Homo sapiens: one gene and its partner. The protein of the gene in region 1 purifies or fractionates together with the protein of each later gene. This does not show direct contact. Each region holds a gene or a part of one and is shown in the gene's direction. Other genes may lie near its edges.

Region 1 (3,587 bases):
GGAAAAGAGACTATGCAGAAAGCAGTAGACTAGGGAAAGGGGAGGATTCTGACCCAAAAGGCTTCGGTGTCCTGTCTTGAGTCCTGGGAAACCACGAGAAAAGAAGAGAGTGTCCAACCCCCAGCAGGGGCCAGCTCCTGAAGTGCTTGTTGCCGCTGAATCACTCTTTGTTGGGGAACCTCCTGCAGGGCGGTTATTATTTTGGCAATGGTGCACAGCTGAGTTTGGAGAGGCAGGAACTGAAGAAAGGCTGGGAGCCCAGTGAGGATGCTCATGCCAGTGCAGGTGTGTCTGAGACGTCCACAGTCTCTCTGGGCTGACAGTAGCTCCCTTTGGGCTGTGGTTAGCAGAGCAGGTCTCAAGTGCTGGGGCATCGTGAAGCTAGAGATGACCAGCTTGTCTTTATAGCAGTATCGTTGAAGGGAGAGTGGGGGTGACATCATGGGAGTGAGAGCACAGAGGAGGAAGAAAAGAGCACCTAGGACTGGTGGCAAAGCTTCATTTTAAGGAATGACAGACAGTAGGATGGGCCGTGAAGGTGGCCGAGAAGGTGCTCAGAAACCAGTGAAAAAGAGTAAATCGCATGGCGCGAGTTTGTCACGAGTATGGAACTGTAGAGTCTTGAGGATAATAGGGTTGGGTGATCCTCTCACCTGCAATCCTTCTAGAAGGCATCTTCAGTAAAAAGCCAGCCTGCTAGGAGTTAAGGCTGCTGAGGCAGTAGAGACAGTGGTTTTCATCCTGAGGACAGAAATGTGAGCAGGAGATTCAGGGCTATAGTTTGGAAAGATGTGAAGGGAAAGGAAGGTTGTGCTTGTCCAAATCTCAGCTCTTTACATCATATTTTCCCACCAATTGCCTCTTCCTATTGTCTTTTTTATGCTCTAGTATCAGGGGGTGGCGGGGGTGGGGGAAAAATAGTTTTTCCCACCTGATAAATTTCTTTTTATGAGTTATAATTGCTTTTCTGTAGAATGTTTGCCATCCTCCCCTAACCCACCAGCCTCCTCTGCCTGTCCTTCTGTACACCTAAACAGGACAATATATTTATGTTATGTATTTACTAACTTTTTAAATTTTATTTTTTATATATATAGAGAGAGACAGGGTCTCACTGTGTTACCCAGGCTGATCTCCAACTCCCGGGCTCACGTAACCCTCCTCCCTCCGTTTCCCACAGCGCTGGGATTACAGGCGTGAGCCACTACGCCCAGCCTATTTATGTGTTGTTGTTTTTTTTTAATCCTGTAAATCAGGCCACCTTTTTTGCATTGTTTTCAGTTTTCATGCTCTTCATTTCATGGGAGATGCATTGTTCCTTTTACTTTTGTTTTCTCCTGTTTTCTGTTATGCCTGAAAACCCTTGTCCTCCTTGTGTCTAGTGACTTCTGCTAAGGCCCTGCAGGAGGTTCCCCCAACAAAGGGTGATTCAGCTGCAACAAGCGCTTCAGGAGCTGGCCCTTGCTGAGAGTTGGACACTTTTCTTTTCTCGTGGTTTCCCAGGGCTCAGACAGGCTGACCCCAAGGACACCTAAGCCCCTTGGGTCAGAATCTTCCCCTTTCCCTAGCCTACTGCTTTCAGCCTAGTCTCTTTTCCCATGGCATAACCTTCCAGCTGCTTTCATTGTCACTCATGATATTAATCATAATATTAACTAGCATGTTTTGAGTGCTTACTGTGTGCCGGGCCCTGATCTAAGCATGTATAATCTCAGTTAACGTAGCCCTCATTTAATGTAATGTAGGGTGAAGTCAATCCTGTGAGGGAGGTAGTTTTGCTGTCTCCATATTACACATGAGAAAACAGAAGCACCAAGAAGTTAAGTTGCTCAGGTCACTTAGCTCTTAGAGATCACAGCTGGGATTCGTTAACAAAGTTACTAAAACATTCTTTTCTTTTTGTCCAGGTCTCTGAATATTGTGTGGCGACTTACTGCGGGTTTTTAGCCCCCAGTTTAAAGAGTTCAAAAGTGCGCACGAATGTCACTGTGAAGCTGAGAGTACAAGACACCTACTTGGATTGTGGAACCCTGCAGTATCGGGAGGACCCCAGATTCACGGGGTATCGGGTGGAATCCGAGGTGGACACAGAACTGGAAGTGAAAATTCAAGTATGTTTCTTTTCTTTCTGGGTGGGATGTCACCCCGACCCCTTGACTGGAAAGGTGTGTTTATGCTCGTGAGTTTCTACATGTGCTCTGATTTCTCCATCTTCATTTTGTTCTTTACAGAAAGAAAATGACAACTTCAACATTTCCAAAAAAGACATTGAAATTACTCTCTTCCATGGGGAAAATGGGCAATTAAATTGCAGTTTTGAAAATATTACTAGAAATCAAGATCTTACCACCATCCTTTGCAAAATTAAAGGCATCAAGACTGCAAGCACCATTGCCAACTCTTCTAAGAAAGTTCGGGTAAGTGACCTGGCAGTCCCACCTGCTGTCTTTACCTGATTTTTGTGATAATTCCTTGGCTAAACCAGAGGCCAGAATGGAATCTTTCATGGATCTTCAGATCCTCACTTTAAATAGAAGATAAACAAAGCTGGTACTGCGAGCCCAAGCAAAATAGCTCCAAAATAGCTGGCTGAATCCATCCCTGTGCCTGTTCGAACGTCAAAGCGTTGGACACACCATTGTCTATAATCCTAATGAGTCTTGATAGCTTTTGTTCTAGCCACACATTTATACAGTAGGATCGGCAAGCAAAATCTCTAGACCCATTGACAAATGAGCTGTCACTCTTTTCTCAAATGCGGAGGTGACATGTCTTAGCAGAAACCCAAAACAAACAAGGGCCTCTTCAGCACACTCTGGGTAGCATTAGAATCAGATGGAGACCAGATAATCTCTGGGTCATGGGCTGCTTCCTTCACCATGAAGTCATACTTTCTGCGATTAATCTTTTCCCAGATATGTTTGGGGGACGGATCACTGCTATATTTATATCCCATAATAAAGATGTGAGACCACTGAGAAGGGAAACACATTAGAAGTCACCCTTTATAGTATTCATGCCGTATGAGGCTCTGTACAGCCTATATAAATTCTTCTTGATCTATCATCATAAATAATTGGATAAAAGACAATGCAAAAGAACTTCAGACTGGAAGGCAACAACAAAAATGTGTTCATGTCCCACTGGCACCAGTTAATAGCTCTGTGGCCTTAGGTAAATCACTTGAGTTTCCTGAGCCTCTCTTAGTCCATCTGTATGATAAATGGGGTTAATAATAAGTTTTATTTGTTTTTTTAGACAGAGTCTCACTTTGTTACCCAGGCAGGAGTACAGTGGCACGATCTTGGCTTACAGCAACCTCCGCTTCCCAGTTTTAAGCAATTCTCATGCCTCAGTCACCCAAGTAGCTGGGATTACAGGTGCGCACCACCACACCTGGCTAGTTTTTTCTATTTTTAGTAGAGACGGAGTTTCACTGTGTTGGGCTGGCTGGTCCCAAACTCCTTGCCTCAAGTGATCTGCCTGCCTCGGCCTCCCAAAGTGCTGGCATTACAGGTGTGAGCTACCGCGCCCAGCCAATAGTAAGTTTTAAGTCAGGAATAACAACTAGGCTGGGAGAGACAACT
Region 2 (3,587 bases), on another chromosome or scaffold:
GAAAAGAAATATACCTATAGTTTCAGAAGAGAGTTTAAGATTTTATATCAGTCTATTTAAAATTTATATGGTAGTTTTATAGGAAAATACTAAAATTAATTTTTTTTGGTGCAGAAAGAGGTTTAAAGAATCTGAATTGACTATCCTAGAAAAAAACGTATAAAAGATAATTGAACAAATGTCTTCCCCAAAGTGTCAGGTTTACCTCTCAGTTGTATTCAGAATAGTTGATTTTTATGATAACTGAAATACAGTGTCAAGTATACTCACTATCTATTGCTGCATAACAAATTATTCCAAAACTTGGTAGCTTAAAACAATAAACATTTGTTACCTCACACAATTTCTAAGGGTCAAGCATCTGGAAGTGGCTTATTTGGGAGTGTCTGGTTCAGGGTCTCTGAAGGAGGTTACAGGCAAGCTATTGGCTGGTGCTGTAGTCATCTGAGGCTAGAGGATCCACTAACAGACTTTCTCATGTGGTGGATGACAGACCTCAGTTCTTTGCAGCAGGTGAACTGGAGACTCTGTACTTCTATATATGGGCCTCCAGCTTCACTAGAGTGAAAGATCTGAGAGAGAGTCTAATATAGGGGCTACAGGGTTGTTTTTGTTTGTTTTGTTTTTTGACATAAATCTTGGCAATGACGTGTTAATACTTCTGTCCCATTCTGTTGTTTTATCTACGGATAAAACAACCATGGCACAATGTGGGAGGGAACTGCAAAGTTATGAATACCAGGAGATGGGTATCGGGGGGCCATCTTGAAGAATGGCAACCACAGAAAACTTCCAAATTTATTCCACAATAGCACAATTTTTATTTAAAACTAAGAAAGGATAGAACAAGAAAGAGACAGACTAATCTTACCAATGAAAATAGATTCAAAATTCCTAGAGGGAATTTTGAGAAGAAGTGTTTATTAGCAAGGATTTAAGAATGGTTCCAATCATATGAAATCTGAATCTAAATTCAGGTCTGCATTCAATCCTGGCTCAACCACCTTGTAGCTTTATAAATGACTTGTGTCTCAGCTTCTTCATCTCTAAAATAGAAATAGCAACAAAACCTTCCTTACACACAGAATGGTTATAAAGATTATATTAGATAATATATGTAAAACATAGATTGCTGTCTGGCACAGAGTAAGCACTAAGTAAATAAAACTTCATTGATTATTTAAAGAAGGTAAAACATGGTTATCTTAAGAGATACTGAAAATTTTAGGAAATAAAAATTCATTGTTAATGAAGTCCTTAGTAACCAAAGTTCTTTAGCTTGATAAAGGGTGTCTCTTAGTATCTTATTTCAAACACTATATCTGATGGATATACTACACCTGTAGTCCCAGCTACTACTCAGGAGGCTGAGGCATGAGAATTGCTTGAACCTGGGAGGCAGAGATTGCAGTGAGCTGAGATTGGTGCCACTGCACTCCAGCCTGGGCGACAGAGTGAGAGTCTATCTCAAAAAAAAAAAAAAAAGTGATGTAGGTTCTTTTAACTAGAGACCACTCTGAGATTGCAACCACTCTTAAAATTTGCTGAAGCTTTTTATTTGCTCTGTAACTTCTTGCAGTTATATTCTAATGGAGGACAATCTGGTTTGTCCAATACTGGTAATTGAGCCCTGTAAGATATGTTATGGACCACTGTTGAAATATTTCGTTTCAAATAAAAATGTGAAACATTAGTTTTGTCTTAATTTTCCTTTTGCAGCCTAGAGATTGAGTAGTTATTGGAGAATAGAAATGGAACTGTAGGGAGTGAGAAAGAGCTAAATAGGCAAGCATTTTTTTATTTCTGTCCATAAAGCTGCCTCTTCTTTCTGATTTACTATCCTGAAACTGTTAAGACAGCATCTCTCAAATTAGCTGTCTAGCAAGAGCTGTCACCTGCCATGTCCCTTGGTGCCTTTCAGTGAGTTCTTATTGGCATTTGAAATCTGCAAATAGGCAAGCCTCCAGGTTCTGGTGCCCAGGCTGAGGTTGGGTAAGTGATTGATTTATCTTCCACAAAACAAGCCCAAGAGCTGCTTTTCTGTCCAGGCCCTGCCAAAATCCTGGAAGATGGAAGCTCAAGAAACTGGCTATTTTAGTACTTTCAGGAAGTTTTGAAAGAGAAAATGAAAATGTTATGATATATGAGGATTGGTTGGCTTTTTCTCCTGTTTAAAGTGTCTGTGTAGAGAAGGAGAGTGTGGCAAAGAGCTCGACCACTAATTGCCTATTTAATGTTGCCAGCATACTTGATCTCTCTGTGCTAGGGATTTTATATCTAATGATCAGAAAAACTTGGAACACGATAGACTAATGTTTTCCAAAATTTTTAGAACAGTTTCTTGGCCTCGTGTATGGTGAGGAACTATGTATAGACAAAGAATAGACCTGGAATCATGAGACTGGAGCTTGTTCTAACTGAGTAGCTCTGGAATCTTATATTAGTTCCTTGATCTTCTTGGCTTATCCCCTTCATTTGTACAATGACAATGAAACCATAAGATAGTTTTATTGGATTTGTCTATGATTTCTGTTGTTGTGGAACAGACATTTTTCCTAACTCAATAAAATGCAGTAAATCCTGTTTTTTTAAAGAATGGAAAACTTTCCCTTTTCTTGCTAATATAAGGAAATTTTAATATGTTTAATGAATGACAGTACCTTACTAGAATTATTCAGTGTGCTAAGGCAATCTGATAGGAAAAGATTAATGATGTTGTAGATTGTGTGCTGACAAATTGGAGCCTCCAATGCACATAACTGACCACATCTAAAACTTTTAAGTGTAAAATGCGTTCATTAGTAACATCTCTTTTTTCTTGCTAGTCTTCAAAGCATGGAAATACTAAATGGATGGAGAATTTTTAGGGAATGAATCCGTCTCACAGTTAAACTTTTGTTATAGTTCATTCATTTTGATTATATAATGTTTTTACTAATATTAGTCATTAAATATTTTGTAATTGTAATTTTGATTTGTTAACTTCAACCAAGAGTTATTTTAAGTAAGTGCCTTTTAAATTATAAACAAACATGCAAGAAAAGGAAATGATTGGTGCTTTAGTTATTTTTCATTATCTTTAGCAAATGTGACTAGGTTTTTTTTTGGAAGTGTAAATGAGTGAAACTAAAATTTAAATCTTGATTTTTCAAAGCGATTTAGTTTCTGTTCTTTTAAAGTATACTTGTCTGCATGTTTGCTAGAGCAAAGGCTGTTGCACTTATAACTGTCATTTAGTAGGCTGGTTTTGCAGAGAGTGTAAAAATCAGGGCTGGATTCCTTCCTCTATATCCTGCACCATTAAGAACACAGCAACGGAACAATTTTTTGAGTAAGACATGACAGAAATATTTGGTAGATTCCGTCATTGTTTAGCAAATAATCTGGTTTTCCTTCCCCTGCATGCAAAGAGTAAGTATACTTCCTGCCCTGTTGTTGTTGGGTTTGGCCTTATGGCTTGCTTTGGCTGATGAGATGTGAGAAGAGATAATGTATACTATGTGCTTGCATGATTATGCTCTTATTCTCTTTTATAAGAAAAGCATGCCCCTTTCTGCCTAGGACTCAGAATGACAGACACGTGGAGC

What was found. The genes of interacting proteins can lie anywhere in the genome.
Region 2: the proteins of PLXNC1 (region 1) and MANEA purify together in Homo sapiens (affinity purification with mass spectrometry; one large-scale study listed by BioGRID and IntAct). This does not show direct contact.

What each region holds. Positions count from the first base shown.
Region 1 is NC_000012.12:94,245,996-94,249,582, forward strand, and holds part of PLXNC1 (plexin-C1 precursor), read left to right. Parts: intron 1-1,907; coding exon 1,908-2,111; intron 2,112-2,231; coding exon 2,232-2,417; intron 2,418-3,587.
Region 2 is NC_000006.12:95,597,948-95,601,534, forward strand, and holds part of MANEA (glycoprotein endo-alpha-1,2-mannosidase), read left to right. Parts: intron 1-3,587.